2 separate regions of the Homo sapiens genome follow, and region 1 is reported to be linked to region 2. Evidence: microRNA targets listed by miRTarBase, many of them from high-throughput screens and not tested one by one. Region 2 holds a microRNA gene; the other region holds the end of a gene's coding sequence.
What was found. The annotated mature microRNA hsa-miR-3661 reads UGACCUGGGACUCGGACAGCUG and lies in region 2 at 3,303-3,324, opposite strand. An mRNA with a match to its seed (bases 2 to 7 or 8) in the 3' UTR can be bound and repressed. Matches are read on the target gene's strand: a 7mer-m8 pairs with bases 2 to 8, a 7mer-A1 pairs with bases 2 to 7 and ends in A, and an 8mer does both.

Region 1 (5,341 bases), not on the chromosome of region 2:
ATGTTTGTATAGATGACCAAGAATGTTTCTTAACCCTGTAGCCAACACCGGGTGATTAGATGCTCACACCAAGACAGTCAGGATTCCCGGCCACGGTGCCGACCGAACGCATTCAGTGGGGACCCTGGGGCCTTTCAGGGCTTTCAGAGCAGCTGCCTGGCTCCAAGAGGCCCTTTGCAGTTCAGCTCAGTGGGACTCGTTGCTTTTAACTTGAGGGAAAGAAACACACAGGTAAAATGGTCTCCTTCTATCCCAGCAATTTGTGCAGACGGCAGCTACTACAAATTCCTGTTCAACCCCAAGGGGGAGTGCATCCGAGATGTCTACGCGCAGTTTCTAGAGATGACCGATGACAAGCTGTGACTCCAGCTGGGGGCGCCACAGCACCCACCACCTGCCGCCTTCAGACTCTCGGGGCTGGTGCCAGTGCCCCAGGGGCCTCCTGGGCCACGGGCTGGAGGGGCTGCCCAGGGACCTTGGTCTCGAAGCCATACGTGGTTGTCTGCTTTCCTAAGGACTCCCATTTCCAGTATTAAAGAGAGAATCATCATCAAGGCACCGTAGGTAACTCAGTGGCTGTGACCAGCTCGACTGGCGGCCACTGGCTGTTCCCATGAGTTCAGCTGTGACGTTAGCTTCAGTGGCTCCGCCGCATCCTCACACTGACGGGGGCTCCATACGGACCTGGGGACTGGGCTGAGAGGGTGGACGAGTTCAGGTTTGTTTTTGCAGCAGATTCCGTCGTTCTTACTGAGTCTGCAGCGGGGGAGTGAACAAGTGTGCAGATGTAAGTTCTTACATGATAAGCAGATTGAATACAACACCAGCAGCTTGCCTTAGAAAAGGAGAAAGGAATTCCTTTTCCCGCCCGAACATGAAGAAAAATGACCTGACCCTGTAGAGAGAACACAGTGTGAATGTTTCCCCTCGTGTGAGCCCAGCCTGTGGTCTTCTCCGTACCCGCAACGTGGTCATCTGTGCCCGTGACGTCACCTGTGCCCGTGCGTGGCGTCCCCGTCTCCGTTGGGGCCATTAGAATGAGGCAGACACCAGGCCACTCTAGAAGCCGAGCCGTCACACCTCAGGCGTGTGCGGGGCGGGGACGGGGGGTCTCCTGGTTACATTTTGGATTAAACCTGTTTCCCGGTTATGTGTAGGGAACAGCAGAGTGATGCACGAACTTTGAACATTCGTTATGGGGAAAACATCCTTTAACTTCGGGGTCGTCTGCCAGAGCAGGGTCTGGGAGGGTCCATGCAGTTCCCGCTGGTGTGGAGGGAAATGCCCTGGTCTGGCCTCCGAGCCCCCAGGTCCACCGTCTCCCCTCCCCTCATTTGTAAGAATAGCTACACACTAACATTTTGGGAAGGAGAGGCACATAACTTTTTTTAACATTTGGTAACTAGGTTATGGGCTCTACATTGTCAGCTACTTGGGATATATATTTAATTTTCTTAAATTCCCGTTAAACTCTATTTTATGGTTTTGATTTCAGATTGCAAACATGTAAAACCTGCATAGCAGCGAGTTCTCGGTTTTGCCGGTTTCTTTAGTTCTTTACTGTCACTGTCATGTAATCAGCTAATTCTCTGTGGATGTTGCTGTAAAGTATGCATGTTCCTTTCATGTGTATTTAATCATGATGTTTAATTTTGCACACTTATTTGTAATGTTTCTTTTAAATAAAAGTGACTAATTTTGTTGTAGTCTGGACCTGTAATGGGAAGTAGAATTGTGTGTTATGAAGCCAAACACTCTTCCCCTTGCTGTGAGAATCTGGTTGGAGTGTAGGCTTCAGAACAGCCTGTGGGCCTGAAGAGGCGCCGGCCTGTGACAGGACAAGGTGGAAGCCAGGGTCACTGGGTGCGGAGCCTGGAGCTTCACTCCCTGTGTCGGGACAGGACAGCCTGCCCTCCTCATTCCCTGTGTCGGGACAGGACAGCCTGCCCTCCTCACTCCCTGTGTCGGGACGGGGCGGCCTGCCCTCCTCACTCCCTGTGGCGGGACGGGGCGGCCTGCCCTCCTCACTCCCTGTGGCGGGACGGGGCGGCCTGCCCTCCTCACTCCCTGTGGCGGGACGGGGCGGCCTGCCCTCCTCTCTCCCTGTGTCGGGGATGGGACGGCCTGCCCTCCTCTCTCCCTGTGTCGGGACGGGGCGGCCTGCCCTCCTCTCTCCCTGTGCCCCAAGGGCACCTCTGGAGGAGGGAGGGAGGAAATGCATCTGTAGGAGGCCTGTGTGGCTCTGGGAGGTCTGAGGCTCCTGCTGGCCTGTGGAGGTGGAGGGTGGCTGGCAGCAGCAATGTCCCTGCATGTTGAAGTGGCAGCTTCAAGTGAGCCGGCGTCACCCTGGCTTGTCTAACACTTGAGATCTGACTCTGGGTGGGGGAGTAGGAGCGTAATTACCAGTTGATAAACATGAATCTGGGGGAAATGCATGCAAGAAGGGTGGGTTTTCTCGCAGTGCACGTGAACAGCCTCAGAACTGATGCGGACGGCGGGGCTGTGTCACAGGCCCGTTCACCAGGAACGTGGCGAGGGCCTGCACGGACGTGCCTCATGTGAGGCCCTGGCGGCACCGGCCCTCCCCAGGCATGTGCTTTTTAAAAATCACTGTAGAGCGGCAAGGACACGGTGTCCCTAGGCCGGCGGACTCGGGAGCGCAGCTGCTTTTCAAGTGGAACTGATGGGAAGCGCAGTGTATGGGAAACAAGGCCGGGCTGCTGCCTCCCCCACGAACCTCCTGTGCCCCGGACGTGGGTGCGAAGGGACTCCAGAGTGACTGCCTCAGACGGTGCCTACTCAGCAGCTTTCCTGTCTGATCGTACAGGTGCGTGGGCATGGATGACTCCGGCTGCGTTTCTGGTCTGTCCTCCCTCCCCTGTGGCCCTGGGATGTCTTGCGGGGACAGGCGGCTTGTGCCCTGTGGAACGCAGCCCTGACCCATACCCACCCTGTGTTTGGCGTTGATGCCTGTGTGAACCCCTGGCCACCTCCCGCTCCCACCACTGTAGTCGGGGGCGCTGGCCATCTGCAGCCTTCTGTGATCAAAGAGTTTTATATTTGTGTTTTCTTTCTGCAACCAAACCAAGCCCCTGAATGCCAGAGCTCTTTCACGTGACTTAGTCCTCATCTCTCTTCTGTTGTGTCAGAGGCATTTGGTTGATGACATTGTTGAAACTTGTACCAAAATTTTTCTCTTCCAGATGGATCAGAGAATACAATGAAAAAAAAGTTCCTTATAAAATAATAGAAAAATATAAATTTGTAAGCAAAATTGCCCCGTGTTTCTACCTCCAGAGAAGATCACTCTCAGACAACCCCACACCTGAACGTAACATCTATTTTTATTTAAAAAATTGTTTTGGTAGAGACGGGGTTTCTCCTCCACCTCCTGGGCTCAAGCGATCTTCCCACCTTGGCCTCCCAAAGTGCTCGGATTACAGCCACCACGCCTGGCCGCCTTTTTTATTTCAGATACATTTGTCAGTTCTAAAGTTGGTTTCTAATTCGTGGCTGATGACTTGTGTCTGCCCATTTGTACGCGCTCTGTGCGCTTTCAAGTCCTTGTCTGCCGATTCCAGCATCTGGGTCTTCTTGGAGGATGCCTCCTGATTTTCCTTTATTGAGTGGGGACTTGGGGGTGACCCTGCCTGCCGCTAGGAATGGCTGTTGAATTTTGTTAAGTGACTTTTCTGCATCTGTTGTGATGATCACACCTATCTTTTACGCCGTGAACGTGGAGCATCACGTTGATTTTTGAATGTTGAGCCAACCTTGCTGTCCTGTGGGAAAGCCCACTTGGTCACAGTGTGTTATCCTTAAATACTGCTGAATTCGCCAGGCGCGGTGGCTCACGCCTGTAATCCCAGCACTTTGGGAGCCTGAGGTGGGTGGATCACCTGAGGTCAGGAGCTCGAGACCAGCCTGGCCAACATGGTGAAACCCTGTCTCTACTAAAAATACAAAAATTAACCAGGCGTGGTGGCGCGTGCCTGTAGTCCCAGCTACTTGGGAGCGTGAGGCAGGAGAATCAGTTGAACCGGGCAGATGGAGGCTGCAGTGAGCCGAGATCGCAGCACTGCACGCCTGCCTGGGTGACAGAGACTCTATCTCAGGAAAAAAAAAAAAGAATTCTACTAATACTTGGGGATTTTTTTTTTTTTTGGATGTATATGTATAGAGGATTCTTATTTCTAATTTAGCTTGTAATATTCTTGCCGCATTCTGGAATTTCGTATCAGGTTAGTGATTTTGTGGTTTTGGCATTAATTTTAAAATGATTTGTCTTACGCAACATCCACCAAAATGTAGACATACAATGGGTTTTAACAAAAGCAAATGTAGACTTGAGACTGAGGTGGCATCTAGTGAAATGTCATTTCTTTTGTAGCTCTGTTCAAGAGAGACGCCACCGTCTGTAGAGGCCGTGAATCCCCCGACATTTGCTCTGAGCCTCCCACAGACACCTGCGGCCCCATCTTGAGTTGTCCATGCTGGCTGCCAGCCAGAAGCCTGTCATCTGTGTAAGATGTTTCAGATGGTGAGTCTGACGACGCTTCTGGGGCATGCGAGCTGAGGGCTAATTATCTCCTAATCTCTCTCGGGTATGTGGAAAAAACAGGCAAGGATCTGGCCAGATACTGTGGAAAAGGGTGTCCTCCTGACCTTGATAGCAGAGTGTAACTCCAGAAAATCAGCATTTTTCTACCTCAGTTTCAGTATTTGCACAAGGGACTTGAACTTATGTCTCACATTATTTTTACCATTATCAGCATATACGACAGCTGCCTATCCTTTTTTTTTTTGAGACAGGGTCTCACTCCAGGCTGGAGTGTGGTGATGCAATCTCAGCTCACTGCAACCTCTGTCTCCTGGATTCACGTGATCCTCCCACCTCAGCCTCCTGAGTAGCCGGGACTACAGGCGTGCACCACCACGCCCGGCTAATTTTTGTTATTGTTTTGTAGAGACGGTGTCTGTGTTCTCCAGGCTGGTCTTGAACACCTGGCCTGAAGCAGTCCTCCCACCTCAGCCTCCCAAAGTATTGGGATTACAGGTGTGAGCCACCGTGCCCAGCCGTGCTTCTTTTTTTCTTTTTTTTTTTGGCTCTGTCACCCAGGCTGGAGTGCCGGGGTGCAATCAAGGCTCACTGCAGCCTCGCCCTCCTGGGCTCAAGTGATCCTTCTGCTCCAGTTTCCCAAATAGCTAGGACCATAGGCATGCACCACCATGCCTGGCTAATTTCTTTATGTTTTGTTTGTTTGTTTTTGAAACGGAGTTTCGCTTTGTCTCCCAGGCTGGAGTGCAGTGGCTCAACCTCGGCTCACTGCAACTTCCACCT
Region 2 (5,373 bases):
GGTAGGGTGCCTATTATAAAGCTATTTGCTCAAGGTTATCCTCCTCCTACCCCGCCCCCATCATCAGATGATTTTTATTTATAGCTATGTTTAAACATCATGGGCAACACTCAGACTTGCTGTATATTGAATTTGCCATCAGAGCAAAGATTCTTTCTCAAAGCATATTTGCTTTATTTACTCTCTGGTGTTTCCCAATAAATTAAAAAGACAATTCTTTTTGGTTTGCTTTAAATTTTTTGTTCCAAATATTCTTCAGCTCTAGAATTGAGTCAGTGAGGTCAAATTAGTCAAGACCAGATAAGTCAAAATGAATTTTCATTTTCATGTCCATTAGATATTTTGTTCTACAGAATACACAATCTGAATTTCTTCTAAAGAAAAATATATCCTGATTAATTTACTTCTGTATTGTTTATGATCATGTATGCTTTACTTCACTGTCTGATGCTAAGAGCTTCCTAGAATTCATTCCTTAAGAAGTTAAGTCATGGCATTTAATTATTTGGCAGGATGTTTTAAGTACATATAATTATTATATCTTCCCTCCATTTTGTGATGGTGGTGAGCCAAGTAATCTGCATCAAGAGAAAATAAATAACACCTACATTAATGCTACCAACAAGGGGCTCACAGTACTTTGGAAAAACTCATAATTTTAGCACACAGTGGGTGTTCAATACTTCATCATCTATCAAACTAACATCACCACACCCTTTCCAGGTAAGAGAATCTAGGCAGGCTGGGTGCGGTGGCTCACACCTGTAATCCCAGCACTTTGGGAGGCTGAAGCAGGCGGATCACCTGAGGTCAGGAGTTTGAGACCAGCCTGGCCAACGTGGCGAAATCCGTCTCTACTAAAAATATAAAAATTACCCGGGCATGGTGGCGGGTGCCTGTAATCCCAGCTACTTGGGAGGCTGAGGCAGGAGATTTGCTTGAACCTGGGAGGCAGAGTTTGCAGTGAACCGAGATTGCACCACTGCACTCCAGCCTGTGCAACAGAGTGAGACTCTGGCTCAAAAAAAAAAAAAAAAAAAAAAAAAAAAGAGAGAGAATCTAGGCAAAGAGAAATAATGTTGATTCTGTTCCATATGTCAGACCTTGGAAGGTCAACTGCATGACTGTGGCTGAGACTTTGTACTTGGGAGTGTGCAGTTTTAAATCCTGACCACTATCTTAGGCAAGTCCCTTCTCTTTTCTGAGTGCCTGTCTGCTTCTTGCCCCATCAGACAGTTCTCACACAGGTTCATGGCAACGGTAAAGAATAAGATTAGACAGCACACTGGGTATGGCTTTATAATCACGGGCACTAAGTGATGATTTTTTCCTTATTCATTCCACTTGGTCTTAACTCTTACCCTTCTATTGTTTGGGGATGTTAACTGCAAAACAGGGACAGAATTTGGGCTAAAGGGTCTTTTTCCCAGTCTGGTAAATTAAGTATGTGATAAGACTTCTAGAAGAGTAGATTTAAGGTACTTTCTTTTGTGCACACTAATGGGAGGTGTGAAGGGAAAGCAGAATTGCAATTTCCAGCCTAGGGAGGCCAAGCCAGTCGGCCTTGCCAAACACGTTGTCTTGGATAAAGGAGGATTTTCAGTCCTGCTATTGGCTGATGGGGCCTCCAGTGCCTTCTTCAGCCTGTTGGTGGGGATGATGCCCTCAGAGCCGCAGAGTGAGCAGTCTCCTCCCAAGCATCGCTGAGCACTTGGGTGTGGAAGGGTTGCCTGATACTGAGGGTGGGGTTCCTGGAAGACAGGCGATCAGGTTCAGCTCTTGCCTTGCCCTTTATGGTTAAATGTTCTTTGGAAAGCTTCTATATCTTTCAAATCCTGGGGGCATTATGATCTCTCTTCTGCCTATCCCAAACCATCTTCAGCCAGTACTGTTGGGAGAATACAAGCTCCAGGGCATGGTCCCTGGTCCGTCTGGATGACCCCTCCGGATCTGGCATATAGCTGGCGCTCTATGGAACCAGATATTTATGTAAAAGCAGGGACAATGGAATGTGAAAACGTTTCGCAAACTCCAAAGCGATTCATAACCAGACAGAGGTCCAATCCTAGGGTATACGAGCTCTCTCTTTTAAGCACGTATCACAGCTGCTTCTCACGCCACCGAGACGCGGTCAGGACAGGTGCATCCATCTTCTCTGGGCTTCCCCTCTTGAAAGTAGGCCAGGGCGCGCAGGGGTTGAGGGTCTCTCATTCCCAGAGAGAATTAAACTTGGAGGAAAGCAACCACCGGCGAGGAGCGGGGCGCGTGGAAGCGAGCCGCGGTCCGAGGCCCAAAGAAAAGCCCAAGCCTCGCCCCCGCCATCGCGCCCGACGAGACACCTAGGTCCGGGGACGGGTGTGTGCCGCGGAAGTCAGGTGCACTGCGCAGCACTCCCCCGGTAGGTACACGCTCCTCCACCTACGAGTGACCTAATTACAAGGTGCCAGCCGCGCCCAGAGGTGGGGGTGGTTAATCCAAGCGGCCACTCGCTGCCCGTTCCTGCCCCCAAAGATGACGGAAACCCACACGATTACAGAGCCGCAGCACCCCAGATGAGCCACGGGGTCGCAATTCTCGTTTCCGTGATCGGACTGCCAGGCCCCAGGTGAGGAGCTGAGTTCATCACCAGAGCGGCCTTCCCAGGGGAACCAGTTACAGGCTGCCAGTGGCCCCGGCTTCCATCCGGTCTGCGCCTGCGCGCGGCCCAAGCCCTCGCCTCTCCTGGAATAGTGCTCAGGGATTAGTCCGGTTCGCCGCTGTGCGCACTGCGCATGCTCCAGCTCCATCCTTCCCTTCCCCCACCACCCCGCCCTCCGGGAGCCACGCCCAAAAAGTCAAGGCGCTTCAGTTACCAGCCGGCTACGTCGCGCCTGCGCTTTGACCCCCAGTTTGCGCCCCAACTCCGGTCGTGCGGCCGCCCGGGGAGGGCTCTGCAGTTGCGCAGCTTGCTCCCCGGCCCTTTTCCCCTCCGCTCCCCGCCGCCTCCTGACGCCGGGCGTGACGTCACCACGCCCGGCGGCCGCCATTACAGAGAGCCGAGCTCTGGAGCCTCAGCGAGCGGAGGAGGAGGCGCAGCGGCCGACGGCCGAGTACTGCGGTGAGAGCCAGCGGGCCAGCGCCAGCCTCAACAGCCGCCAGAAGTACACGAGGAACCGGCGGCGGCGTGTGCGTGTAGGCCCGTGTGCGGGCGGCGGCGCGGGAGCAGCGCGGAGCGGCAGCCGGCTGGGGCGGGTGGCATCATGGACGAGAAGGTGTTCACCAAGGAGCTGGACCAGTGGATCGAGCAGCTGAACGAGTGCAAGCAGCTGTCCGAGTCCCAGGTCAAGAGCCTCTGCGAGAAGGTGAGCTGTAGTACGGCTGCGGACAGCCGCCGCGGGGCCGAGCCCGCCGAGGAAAAGGCGGCCGTGAGGAGGGTGCAACATGGCGGAGGCCGCCGGTCCGGGCCCCCCGAGTCTCCGAGACCGGCGCCCATCCTGGCCGGCGGCGGCTTCCTAACGACCCGGCGCCCCCTGCCTCCCGCGCAGGGATTGGTTGCCGCCGCCGCCTAAAATGGCGCCGTTCACTCGACTCCTGGGCTTTTGAGTCAGCCGGCCTTGGCGCCAGACGAGGTGGCAGGGGGAGCGGAGACCCTGTGGGTCATCGTCAGGGACGGTTTTGAGGGTGAGCTGGCTTGGATTCTGCGGCTTGGGAATGGAGCCTGGGCCTCTCCGGTGGGCTGAGTAAGAGTCTTGCCGCTGGTACCCAGGCCTAGTTAGGTCCAGAGCTGCCCAGAGGATCCCCCAAAGGCAGTCTTGTTAGGCCGTATCCCAGAACATACCTAAAGGTCACACAGCTTTAGTACCCCTTGGTGGTTTGTATTAAACTCACCAAGCGATCTTCTCCAGAAATCAAGGTAAGGGGTGTCTTTAAGAATTTTTAAATTATTCTCTTAACCTAATTTTTACGAAGGTCATGGTGGTAGCTATAAGGGAGGAGTGTAACTTATTTTTCATAGTTGGAAGAAATCGGGAATTTGGTGAGTCATACTACATAAGGAGCTTTTGGATTGGAAATCAAGTGTCGGTTGAATATGATTTATATGCTGACTCAAAGCCTTCTCTAAGCTTAACACACTTGGCATTTTGCCGTTTATTTTTAAAATGAACAACATAAAATGGAAGAGCGGTAAATTTTGTATCTTTGTTGCAAAAATTACTTGATAGTATTTTGTGGCTGCAAGTAGTAGTAGTGATAATAACTGTCGACTGAGATTGTATTCCAGACATTGTGCTTAGTGTTTAAATAATGTCTCACATACACTGAAAATAGAATGTTGTAGTCCACTTAGTAACACTAAACTTTATATTAGCTAATTCCCTTTTGTTTTCCCCTGGGGGTTGGGGAAACAGGTAGTTAATTTAGCTATTAGCTTTGTGTTGTATTTTTAAATTCTTGTAACTCAGTTTTCTAAAGTACACAAAATGCTGATCTCTGCTGTGAACATTTTAACTTCCCTTTTCAAAATTAACTTTGCAGCACGTCACTTTAGTACAGAATAGTGGAGTATCATATTAGCATTTTGTATCCGTGAAAAGAATTAATGGAGAACTATTATCCTGATTTGTTTCTGGTTTGATGTGAAAATTAGGTTCATGAGTTTGACGTATATGTTTCCAAGACAGGCTTTTTTAGAAACCATGTTGTGAACAATTGGAATTTAAGTAAGTCAGATTTAGATTTGTTTCTCCCAAGCCTGAACAAAACTACTACTAGTGGATGAGGTGGCACATCATCTGTTGGAGATGCCTTTTAATGGTAGCGATGTATTGAATCTCCTGTTTCTTTACCCTCTCACGTCAAATGAGGTTGGTATTTATTTTAAAGGTTTAAAATTGGCCTTTAAAAATGAATGTATATTGCCAGGTCTTAATTTCTAGGTACTGTACATGATGATCTTACCGATTTTTGGAATTCAGTGCATTATATGAAAGACTTTTAAGTCAGTAGTTGGCCAGTTGACTAGTCTTTTGAAGAAAACGTGGAAAGGAGGGAGGTAATGACGTAACTGGAAGACTGGACTGCGAGTTAGATTTGGACATGAGTCCTTCTGCTCTTACTTGAGTAATTGTGACAGACTTTGGGACAGCCACTTCACTTGTCCTTGTTTTCCTGTCTATAAACTAAAATGTGTTCTGAGATTATACAGTCAATTCCGTTTTAAATTAGTAGTGTGTTTAATATTGAACATCTATTGAATATCTAAGATTGCATACTCTTTTGAGGGAAATGAAAAGCAATGAAGAATAAGTATGCTTATTGTCGAGGAGCTATGAATCTAGTTTGAAAGAAAAGCATGGTATGAAAAGGTGTGGGAGATGGAGCATGGAAGTAGAG

Region 1: miRTarBase lists WDR45B as a target of hsa-miR-3661. Seed matches in the 3' UTR shown: 7mer-m8 at 1,307-1,313.

Annotation. Positions count from the first base shown.
Region 1 is chr17:82,610,941-82,616,281 of GRCh38, reverse strand. WDR45B (WD repeat domain 45B) reads left to right here. Exons shown (of 10, transcript NM_019613.4): 10 at 257-1,720. The coding sequence ends at 363. Among named protein-coding and RNA genes, the nearest start is that of FOXK2-AS1, 25 kb to the right of the region's middle.
Region 2 is chr5:134,223,728-134,229,100 of GRCh38, reverse strand. It overlaps MIR3661 (microRNA 3661), which reads right to left and starts at 3,344; the gene lies at 3,249-3,344. PPP2CA (protein phosphatase 2 catalytic subunit alpha) reads left to right here and starts at 3,028. Exons shown (of 7, transcript NM_002715.4): 1 at 3,028-3,341. The coding sequence starts at 3,240. PPP2CA-DT (PPP2CA divergent transcript) reads right to left here and starts at 2,691. Exons shown (of 1, transcript NR_186539.1): 1 at 151-2,691. RefSeq lists enhancers at 1,728-2,247, 2,089-2,248, 2,248-2,769, 2,770-3,289, 3,629-3,738.